Regions from separate parts of the Homo sapiens genome. Here all the other regions are linked to region 4. Evidence: fine-mapped expression QTL. A gene starts in region 4. Each other region holds a variant in brackets. All regions are shown on one strand. Distances are between the middles of the regions.

What was found.
Region 1: its variant is fine-mapped to the expression of SLC35F2 in aorta (GTEx, PIP 0.99). The same link has a PIP of 0.9 or more in tibial artery.
Region 2: its variant is fine-mapped to the expression of SLC35F2 in lung (GTEx, PIP 0.93).
Region 3: its variant is fine-mapped to the expression of SLC35F2 in whole blood (TOPMed, PIP above 0.99).

What each region holds. Positions count from the first base shown.
Region 1 is chr11:107,836,644-107,839,328 of GRCh38, forward strand. The region is part of intron 1 of SLC35F2 (solute carrier family 35 member F2); the gene reads right to left. Among named protein-coding and RNA genes, the nearest start is that of SLC35F2, 21 kb to the right of the region's middle. The variant T/C (reference allele first, on the strand shown) is at 1,305.
Region 2 is chr11:107,895,391-107,898,075 of GRCh38, forward strand. No RefSeq gene overlaps it. Among named protein-coding and RNA genes, the nearest start is that of RAB39A, 32 kb to the right of the region's middle. The variant G/A (reference allele first, on the strand shown) is at 1,641.
Region 3 is chr11:107,790,800-107,793,484 of GRCh38, forward strand. It overlaps SLC35F2 (solute carrier family 35 member F2), which reads right to left. Exons shown (of 8, transcript NM_017515.5): 8 at 192-2,001. The coding sequence ends at 1,816. Among named protein-coding and RNA genes, the nearest start is that of SLC35F2, 67 kb to the right of the region's middle. The variant C/G (reference allele first, on the strand shown) is at 1,578.
Region 4 is chr11:107,857,673-107,860,357 of GRCh38, forward strand. SLC35F2 (solute carrier family 35 member F2) reads right to left here and starts at 1,115. Exons shown (of 8, transcript NM_017515.5): 1 at 986-1,115. The coding sequence starts at 1,095. It overlaps LOC124902746 (a long non-coding RNA gene), which reads left to right and starts at 1,558. Exons shown (of 2, transcript XR_007062876.1): 1 at 1,558-1,982; 2 at 2,074-2,685. RefSeq lists an enhancer at 641-710 and a silencer at 931-1,240.

The sequences.
Region 1 (2,685 bases), 21 kb before region 4:
GAAGGTGGAAAAGGCCAGGAATTGATTCTCCCCTAAAACCTCCAGAAAAGAATGCAACACCTGCAACACTTTGATTTTTAGCCCGGGAAGATGAATGTTGGCTTTCTGACCTACAGAACAGTAAGATATTAAATTGGTGTTGTTTTAAACCACTAAATTGGTGGTAATTTGTTATGACAGCAATAGAAAACGAATATACAAAGTCAACAATGCATGTGATACTTTAAAACAACACTTGAATCATAATGTTATAACTATTTACATTCATCTCAGCGAATTTCCTTAGTAACAAAATAATCACATCAAATAAAGAGTCTATTAAAAAACTGCAGGCAAAGCTGATTGGGAGCTACCTTGGATTGAAACACTTTCATCGTTTGCCAGGGAGAAAATAAAACCAGGCCATCAAGCCAGAAACTGCTGAACTAGTTCCATGGAAACCAACAAAAATTGAAAGTATAAATCCAGTGATTTATTCTTATGCATTATGTCCCATGTGACTTAGTGAAGAACACAGGGGACACATTAGTACTGTCCCATCCCCTACATAATAAAAGACAGGGAAGTGCTAGCCACTGATGAGCTCTTACGTATATTAACATACTGCATGTTCATACAACACTATATATGTATCATTCTGGCAGCATTTAAGTCTTTTAACCAAGTTTATGTGCCAAATAAATAGCAGCACTAGATTAAAATCCAAATATGATTCCAAAGCCTGTGTTCTTTACATTCTGCCATGCTAAAAAACTGAAATAAGGCCAGGAGCAGCAGCTCATGCCTGTAATCCCAGCACTTTGGGAGGCCGAGGCAGGTGGATCACTTGAGGTCAGGAGTTCGAAACCAGCCTGGCCAACATGGAGAAGCCCTGTCTCTACTAAAAAAAAAAAAAAAAAAATTAGCTGGGCATGGTTGCACAGACCTGTAATCCCAGCTACTCGGGAGGCTGACGCAGGAGAATCAGTTGAACCTGGGAGGCAGAGGTAGCAGTGAGCTGGGATGGCACCACTGCACTCCAGCCTGGGCGACAGAGTGAGAGTTTGTCTCAAAATAAAAATAAAAAAGTAAATTAATTGTGGGAATAAAGATAGTAAGAAAGGCACCCACTACCAGAATGATGACCTCTAAATTCCTATGACATTTTGGTTGCAATCCTCTTTTTCCATTTTCTATATTCTGCCTGTAGTGTTTTATATGTTCCACTTGCTTTACTAGATTCTAAATGCAGACATCGTGTTATGGATTTTTTGCCACCCACCCACCCCCACCTTATACACACATAGTCTCACAATATCTAGTAA[T/C]AGTAATGGTAATAATAATTATGACATCTAACACTTATTGAGTGTATACTATATACCAAGCGCTAATTGATTTAATCCTCCCAACAATCCTGAGATGGGTACCATTATTACTGCTATTTACAGATAACAGAAATGGAGGCACAGAGATGTTAAGTAACTTGCCCAATATCACACAACTAGCAAATGGCAGAACCTGGAGACCAACCCAAGCAGTGTGGCTCCAGAGGCTGAGCTCATAACCACTGTTACACTGCAAGTACACTACTTGCATTTATTAGGGATTCATAAAACCTTTCTTACCTCAACAAAAGTGAAGTGGCTTAATAAAAATAAATGTGTGTGGGTGCCATACTAAGTACTTATATATGATGTTTCTTTTCGTTTCTTTTCTTTTGAGATGGAGTTTTGCTTTTGTCACCCAGGCTGGAGTACAACGGCGTACTCTCGGCTCACTGCAACCTCCACCTCCTGGGTTCAAGCGATTCTCCTGACTCAGCCTCCCGAGTAGCTGGGATTACAGGCGCCCGCCACCACGCCCAGCTAATTTTTGTATTTTTCGTAGAGATGGGGTTTCACCATGTTGGCCAGGCTGGTCTTGAACTCCTGACCTCAGGTGATCTGCCCATCTCGGCCTCCCAAAGTGCTGGGATTACAGGCGTGAGCCACTTTGCCCGGCCCTCTTTTTTTTTTTTTTTTTTTTTGAGACAGTCTTGCTCTGTCCCCCAGGCTGGAGTGCAGTGGCGCTATCTCATCTCACTGCAACCTCTGCCTCCTGGGTTCAAGCGATTCTCCTGCCTCAGCCTCCCAAGTAGCTGGGACTACAGGCGTGCACCTCCATGCCTGGCTTATTTTCATATTTTTAGTAGAGATGAGGTTTCGCCATATTGCCCAAGCTGGTCTCGAACTCCTGACCTCAGGTGATCTGCCCATCTCGGCCTCCCAAAGTGCTGGGATTACAGGCATGAGCCACCACACCTGGCCGATAAGTTTCTCTTAAATATCACAAAAACTCTTGTGAGATAGAGATTATTAGTACCATTATACTGTTGAAAAATAGTTGTAACAGTTTCAGCTGTTCAGAAGTAACTTTTCCAAGATCAGAAAATTAGTAAGTCTACATTTTTCCCGTTCCATACACTACTTCCCTGACAACAATAAAATATACCATATGTAATACTGACAATTATGATACCATACAGGGAGATCAATTGGTACAAATTACCCTGGCTCTGGCTGGACGCAGTGACTCACTCCTGTATTCCCAGCACTTTGGGAGGCCAAGATGTGGGGATCACTTGAGGTCAGGAGTTCAAGACCAGCCTGGCCAACATGGTGAAACCCCGTCTCTACTAAAAACATGAAAATTAGCTGGGCGTCATGG
Region 2 (2,685 bases), 38 kb after region 4:
GGATGATGGGAGTGAGACTCTGTCTCAAAAAAAAGAAAAAGGAAAAGAAAAAAAAGAGGTTAATATTCAAACCAAAAGGCTGTATGGTAAAATAGCATGAATTTAGGAGTCAAGCAAACTTAGACTCAGATAGAACATTGAGAGGGTTACATAAGTGCACATATGTATTACATATGCACATCATAATAAGCGCTTAATGTTGTTAAATAATTAGTTAACAAAGTTCTGACCTCAGATGTGCATGGACAGCAGAGGAAGCCATACATACAAATCGCCAATTAAAATAAAGTTAAATAATGCAATAATAAAAATACTTATTATTATTACTATATTAAGTGCTTACCATGTATCAAATATTATCTCCATTTATAGAACAGGAAACTGGGGCTTAAAGAGGTCATATAACGGTGGACGGTGAGCAGGAAAAAAAAAAATTTAAGAAAAAAATTTATGGCTGGGCTTGGCGGCTCACGCCTGTGATCCCAGCACTTTGGGAGGCCGAGGTGGGTGGATCACTAAGTCAGGAGTTCAAGACCAGCCTGGCCAAGATGGTGAAACCAGGTCTCTACTAAAAATACAAAAATTGCCGAGCGCGGTGACTCAAGCCTGTAATCCCAGCACTTTGGGAGGCCAAGGTGAGTGGATCATGAGGTCAGGAGATGGAGACCATCCTGGCTAACACGGTGAAACCCCGTCTCTACTAAAAATACAAAAATTAGCCGGGCGTGGTGGTGGGCGCCTATAGTCCCAGTTACTCTGGAGGCTGAGGCAGGAGAATGGCAGGTGAACCCAGGAGGCGGAGGAGCTTGCAGTGAGCCGAGATCATGCCACTGGCCTCCAGCCTGGGCAACAGAGCCAGCCTCTGTCTCAAAAAAAAAAAAAAACAAAAAAACAAAAATTAGCTAGACATGGTGGCAGGTGCCTGTAATCCCAGCTACTCGGGAGGCTGAGGCAGAGAATTGCTTGAACCCGGGAGGCGGAGGTTGCAGTGAGCCAAGATTGCACCACTGCATTCCAGCCTGAGCAACAGAGTGAGACTGTCTCAAAAAAAAAAGGAAAAAAAAAGAAAAAAATTTACCTAGTTAATAAGTGATAGATTGAAACCCACATTTGCTAACTCCAGAGTCTGGGCTCTTAAATGCAGACATGTATGGTCTCCAGATAGAGTTGAATAGAAGGTGCTTTGGAAGTAGAAAAGAAGAATCTCTTGGCCAGGTGCAGTGGCTCACGCCTGTAATCCCAGACTTTGGAAGCCTGAGGTGGATGGATCATTTGAGGCCAGGATTTCAAGACCAGCCTGGCCAATATGGTGAAATCCCATCTCTACTAAAAATACAAAAATTAGCCAAGCGTGATGGCACATACCTGTAATCCCAGCTACTGGACAGGCTGAGGCATGAGAATTGCTTGAACCCAGAAGGCAGAGTTTGCAATGAGCTGAGATCGTGACACCTCACTCCAGCCTGGGCGACAGAGTGAGACTCTGTCTCAAAAAAAGAAGAAAGAGAAGGAGATGGAGAAGAAGCTCTTGAGGCTGAGTGGCAAGAGACAGTATAGAGTGAGTGAAAGGGGATCAAGAATGACTTTATTGACAAGATGGCAAAAGCAGCTCCTTAAAAAGTAGGAATTTGGGGCTGGGC[G/A]CGGTGGCTCACACCTGTAATCCCAGCACTTTGGGAGGCCAAGGCAAGTGGATCACCTGAGGTCAGGAGTTCAAGACCAGCCTGACCAATGTGGTGAAACCCCGTCTCTACTAAAAATACAACAATTAGCCGGGTGTGGTGGCAGGTGCCTGTAATCCCAGCTACTCAGGAGGCTGAGACAGAAGAATTGCTTGAATGCAGAAGGTGGAGCTTGCAGTGAGCCAAGATCGTGCCACTGTACTCCAGCCTGGGCAACAGAGTGAGACTCTGTCTCAAAATAAAATAAAATAAAATAAAATAGAATAAAAGAAAATAAAGGTAGGAATTTGGTAGACAGCCAAGGAGATAGAAAGGACATTACAGGCAAAAAGGAGAGGAACTTCAAACACATGGGATATGGCTGGCTCACAGAGGGCACATGGAGATGCAGTGAAAGAAGAGGTCATAGAGGTCGCAGGCACATGCCATAAAGCACTTGATGCCTCCTGAGGAGCTGCAGCACCTGGAAGCATGGGAATGCCACCATCATTCTGTCACTAATGTGTGTTATACAAAGGAGGGGGCAGAAACACTAGTTAGGAGGCAATTGTAATAGTCCAGGCAAAAGATGATGAGAGCCTGAGTTAAGAATGAAGTGAAGGGGACACGGTTGAACATATGTAGGAAATAGAATCAACACGGTTTAGTGCTGACTGGATGCCATGGGTAGAGAGGATGGAGGCATCTAGGCTAAGTCCCTGGCTTCTGACTAAGGCAACTGCATGAAGGATGAATTATTCCTTTTAAAGACTGTAGGGACCAGGTGCAGTGGCTCACACCTGTAATCCCAGCACTTTGGGAGGCCGAGGTGGACGGATTACTTGAGGTCAGGAGTTAGAAACAAGCCTGGCCAACATGGTGAAACCCCATCTCTACTAAAAATACAAAAATTAGCTGGGTGTGGTGGCGTGCACCTGTAATCCCAACTACTTGGGAGGCTGAGGTAAGAGAATGGCTTGAACCCAGGAGACAGAGGTTGCAGCGAGCCAAGTTCGCGCCACTGCAC
Region 3 (2,685 bases), 67 kb before region 4:
AATTGCTGAACCCAGGAGGCAGAGGTTGCAGTGAGCTGAGATGGCACCACTGCACTCCAGCCTGGGCGACAGGACAAGACTCAAACAAAAAAAAAAGAAGAAAAAAAAATCCACAAGGGTTTTGAAGGACGGCTTTACTGGAAAAAAAATCCACAAGGGGAAATGGTTAATCAAAGAAACCACACAGTTGATGTATTTCCATGAATTCAAAGCCTTTTAATGATGTGAACACTTACTCCCCATTTCTTTTTTACATTGTTACAAAAAATTTACATACAGTTTTCTGAAAGTGGCATTTTGTTGGTTGTTATTATACTGATGACACATATTAACACTTTGTATTGAAGAAGTATCATAAAAATCACAGGGCATTACAGATTTTTGATAAGAAGTAGTAATAGCATTGTCTTTTAACAGCTGGAGGCTCCCAGGCATACTCTTTGGTGAGAAATGATTAATTTTATATTTTCATTTTGATGAGAATCTTTTCTTGTTTTTACCAGTTATAAAAACAAAGCTTTTTCTTTGTTGTGATACTGTGCACTAAGACTTAGTTTCTTGAGCTGATGCTAAATAAAATGAGATCAATAGGAATATTCCAGGAGGTCGTGAGAAGTTTTTAGAAAGGATGGCATCTACATATATATGGAGCTCTGAAAACTGTTGGAGAGTATGACCTGGGACTGAAACTGTGGAGCACATAGCCAGTGTCACAGGCTCCGAGAGCAGAGAGAGTTTGCTCTGGGACCTGGAATGAGTGATGGAGAAATGTTTTAAACAAACAAACAAACAGGCCAGGCACAGTGGTTCACATCTGTAATCCTAGCACTTTCGGAGGCCGAGGTGGGCAGATCGCTTTAGCTCAGGAATTTGAGATTAGCCTGGGCAACATGGCGAAACCCCATCTCTCTACAAAAACAAACAAAACAGGCCTGGCACGGTGGCTCAAGCCTGTAATCCCAGCACTTTGGGAGGTCGGGGCAGGCAGATCACTTGAGGTCGGGAGGTCAAGACCAGCCTGGGCAACATGGTGAAACCCCATGTCTACTAAAAATACAAAACTTAGCTGGGCGTGGGGCCACATGCTTTTGTAATCCCAGCTACTAACACTTGAATCCAGGAGGCAGAGGTTACAGTAAGCTGAGCTTGCACCACTGCACTCTAGACTCTGCATCTCAAACAAACAAAAAAACAATTGTGGGAAGGTTCCTAGGTTTACTGCACTCCAGTTTAATGCTTGTATAGTACTCACACTTATATCTCAAGACTTTTCAAGGGCTGACCCACCCGTTTTCTGCCACATGCAGTCAGCCCCAAGGCCTCATCTGTACCCAAAGGCCTGTGGACAATAACTGCCTCAGCAAAAAAAAAAAAAAAAAAAAACCTTGAAGCATCTGACAGAGGAAACGTACTCCAGAGCCACCGTGAGCTGCCCCTGTTCCTGACCACCAAGCCCAGCCTGGACAGCCTGCTTTCCCGCCCTGGCCTGAGGCTGGCTCAGTCCTGGATCTCTCCCCAGTCCTGCTTTCCCACTGGTGCCTCTAAGACCCCAGTGTGGAGTCTGCACCTCATCTCCT[C/G]AACACGAACAGATATTGGTCCTCAAACACAGAAACACACTCTTAGCTTGGTTTCTGCTCTATTTTGGTATTTCTACTTTTGAACTTTGTTCAGTGTTCCTTTCTAAAACCTAACCACTGGATCCAACCCAGGGTTGTAGAGTGTCCATTCTGAGTCTGCTATTTCCCCAAGTGTCCCCTCAGCAGGCAGCAGGCTCTGCTTTATCCTGGTGGGGGATGGGTGCGCCATCTTCTCCAGCTACAAGACAGCAGAGTGGGTCTCCTGGAGGTTCTCCTCCAGCTTCAGCCCCAGGTTGTCAATCCCAATGCTGGTGACTGGAGGCACGCTGCTTTCAGCCGGCTCGGCCGTGCGAGTAGGGGTGGAGCAGTACAGGATAAACCCCACCATGATGACAGTGAAGGACAGGATGTAGAGTCCTGAAAACTAGAAGGGAAGAACAGGCAGTGAATTGTGCCCCTCACATACACATCTTTGCTGCTGGCTTTTGCCAACTGTGCTTCGAGGATTACCCTCTCATAATCTTTTTATTTTCTTTCTTTCTTTCTTTCTTTCTTTTTAAGACAGGGTCTCGCTCTGTGGCCCAGGCTGGAGTGCAGTGGCACAATCTCGGCTCACTGCAACCTCCACCTCCCAGGCTCCAGTGATCCTCCCGCCTCAACCTCCAGAGTAGCTGACACCACAGGCACTCACCACCACACCCGGCCAATTTTTGTGTTTTCTGTAGAGACGGGGTTTTTCCATGTTGCCCAGGATGGTCTCGAACACCTGAGCTCAAGCAATCCGCCCGCCTCAGGCTCCCAAAGTGCGGGGGATTACAGGCGTGGGCCGCCATGCCTGGCCTCATGATCTTTTTTCTGAAAGTTACCTAAGGAGATGCTAATGCACAAAACCTTCCCATGTATGCTGGTGAATGATGGGACTCTGCCAACAGCACCCGGCACATAAGCCACCTGGATCCTTGGATCTTTAGGAGAAATGGACCTTTGCTTTTCTCTGTCATAATCCAGCTACACCCCACTCTGCATATAGTCCCACTTAGTGGAGAAAATAAAAGGTCATCATGGATACCACAGAGAGCCCCATTCAGACCCTAGACACTGCTTACAA
Region 4 (2,685 bases):
AGGGAAATTCGCTTTGTTAATATGAAAAAAAAATCAAATATCTGTTTCATGAGTTGTCAGTGGCCAACGCTGTTTAGACTACGGCTTGAACGCATCACCCCTTAAAGATCATCTTGTGGCCTTGGGCAAATTGCTTAGCCTTCTTTGTTTCTCCAGCGGCAAAGTGGATATAACAATAGTACCATCTCCTAAAGTGGTGAGGATTAGCTGATATTATCCATATAAATTGTTATGCACAGTACCTGACACAGAGCGAGTGCCCAATAAATGTCTTTCACTATTTAGGTCCTGGGTTCTCTCATTTCCAGAGTGCAAGTCCTCCAGCAACCACAGAAACGCTTTCTAGAGTCGCTGCCCACTCCTTAAAAACATTTGTCCCTACTTCGCACAGAGCATAGTGATACCACAAACAGGCTTCCCTGGACCCCAGCCCTGGGGGTGGCTATATCACCTCGCTCAGGCCCAGGAAGAGAGAGCCGGCTCTGGTCTCCCACCCGGCAGCAGCACAAAACTTAACCAGGATTTCTCACTTCGGTCAACTCTTGAATCACCGCGCCCAGTCTGGCTGGCTCGGCAGCAGATGGAATGAGGGCGCCGGCGCCAGGAAGTGGCGCTCACCCACCTGCCCAGCCCGAGGTGGGCACTCCTCCTTCACAGCATCCCCGGGGACCTCGTCCCTCCACCGCGGAACGCCCCAGAGGACCGACCTAATAGTGCCACAGGGTGGGTTTCCCCCCAAATCCTCCAAAATACATCGCCACGATTTCGAAACGGGAGCCGAGGGAGACGCACCAAGTGCTTCCCGACGCCAGGTGAAGCGCACCATACCTGGTGTGCGTGTTGAGCCCCGAACCGAAGTCCGTGCGGCCGCCACCTCTGCCTCCCTGCTGGGGGCCTCAGAGAGTGTGCTCCTTGTCCACGTGCGCGCAGGGCCCGCAGCCGCCCCCACGCCCCAGCGGAGCTGCAGCACGCCCCTTCCACTCACCAGGTGAAGAGTTTGCCTTTTATCCTGCGCAGCAGGCTGGAGAACTCGGCCGCCGCTCCCTCCGCGAGGGGCTCTGGGGCGCCGGGGCCCGCTGGCGAGTCTGCCTCCATCGGCGCCCTTGCGCGTCTCCGGCGCCCAAAACCCCCGAAGTGCCGGGTCCCGGAAGACGGGAGGCGGTGCCTGTGCGGCCGGCTGGGGCTCCGCTCTGGCCCTGCGCTCCCTCCCTCGCTCGCTTGCTCGCGTCCCTCTCGCTCCTCCGCTCGGCTCCTTCAGCGACCAATCATTAACTGTCAAGCCCTAAGGGCCAGACAATACATTTGCAGATTACAACCTGGCACCTCCAGGGTGGCAGGAGGAGAAAGGGCAATTTTTTTTTCGTCTTGGCAGCCGAGCCTTATTGTTGAGCGGCACCCAGTGTGCCTTCAGGTTTTTAGGGTTCCTTGTTTGAAATCACAAGATACAGTGACACGAGGTTATTGTAGGTGATTCCTAAGCTAAGAAGCGGTGAGTGAGCAGTGAGTTAGAAGCAGTGAGTGAGCCGGGACTCTCCTAACTGGAAGGACTGGCTGACCCCTCCTCTTCCCTCCCACTCTCCCTCCCTCTGGCTGATTTGTACAAAATCGCTTCATTAAAATAACTGAAGGCTGGCAGGGCGCGTTGGCTCACACCTGTAATCCCAACGCTTTGGGAGGCCGAGACGGGTGGATCACCTGAGGTCAGGAGTTCGAGACCAGACTGGGAAATATGGTGAAACCCCGTCTCTACTAAAAATACAAAAATTAGCCGGGCGTGGTGACGGGTGCCTGTAGTCCCAGCTACTCGAGAGGCTGAGGCAGGAGAATCGCTTGAACCCAGGAGGCGGCGGTTGTGAGCCAAGATCGCGCCTTTGCACTCCAGCCTGGGCAACAGAGGGAGACGTCGTCTTAAAAAAAAAAAAAAAAAAAAAAAAAACCTGAAGGCGCTTCAGGTCTGTGTCGCTTTTCCCTGCAAAACATGGGTAAGATCCTAAAAAGATCTTGGAAACGTGCCTTTGTGGCGTGGATGGAGGCGTGGCTCATTCCTCGCGGTGTGTTGGTTTTGTCTTTCAGTATTCAGTTGTCTCCGCCGTGCCAGGGAGAGAGACGGTGCCAACCCCCGGCGCTCGGCTTGGATGCCCTGCCCTGGCCACGCCTTCCGAGGCTTCCACGGGCTAAAGAGGGATTAAGAGACACTAAGCTGGGGTCGAAAAGTTCCTGTCACTGACCCCCTGCTTCCGGAAAGGAGGAGATCCAGAAAACAAAAGAAAAGGTGTTGGGACCTTTTATTTTTTCCTGGCCACCTGCTTTGGGGGTTGGGGTGGGTCAAAATAAACGTAGGTTCAAATAGACAGGCTGTGCAGACGAGCTGGCAATTCTGTAAGAGGAGTCTAAGAAAAAAAACAGCTTTCGAAAATGAAATATTACTTCAGGAACCCCAAGTTTAGCAGCTGCAGGAACCTCAAAAAAACCTTTGAAACTAAGAACGTGGTCATCCGTAGAGACTAATTAAGTATTATAATACAAGCATATTATGAAACAAGAGGACATTAGAAGCACATTTAAGATGTCACTTTTGTAAAGTAAACAACTCATTTAACCCTGCATATTGACAACGTTGAATTCTACCTGAGCCCTGTGCTCCTGGAAAGTAATGACAATTAAGAAACCTTCCTAGGCCGGGCG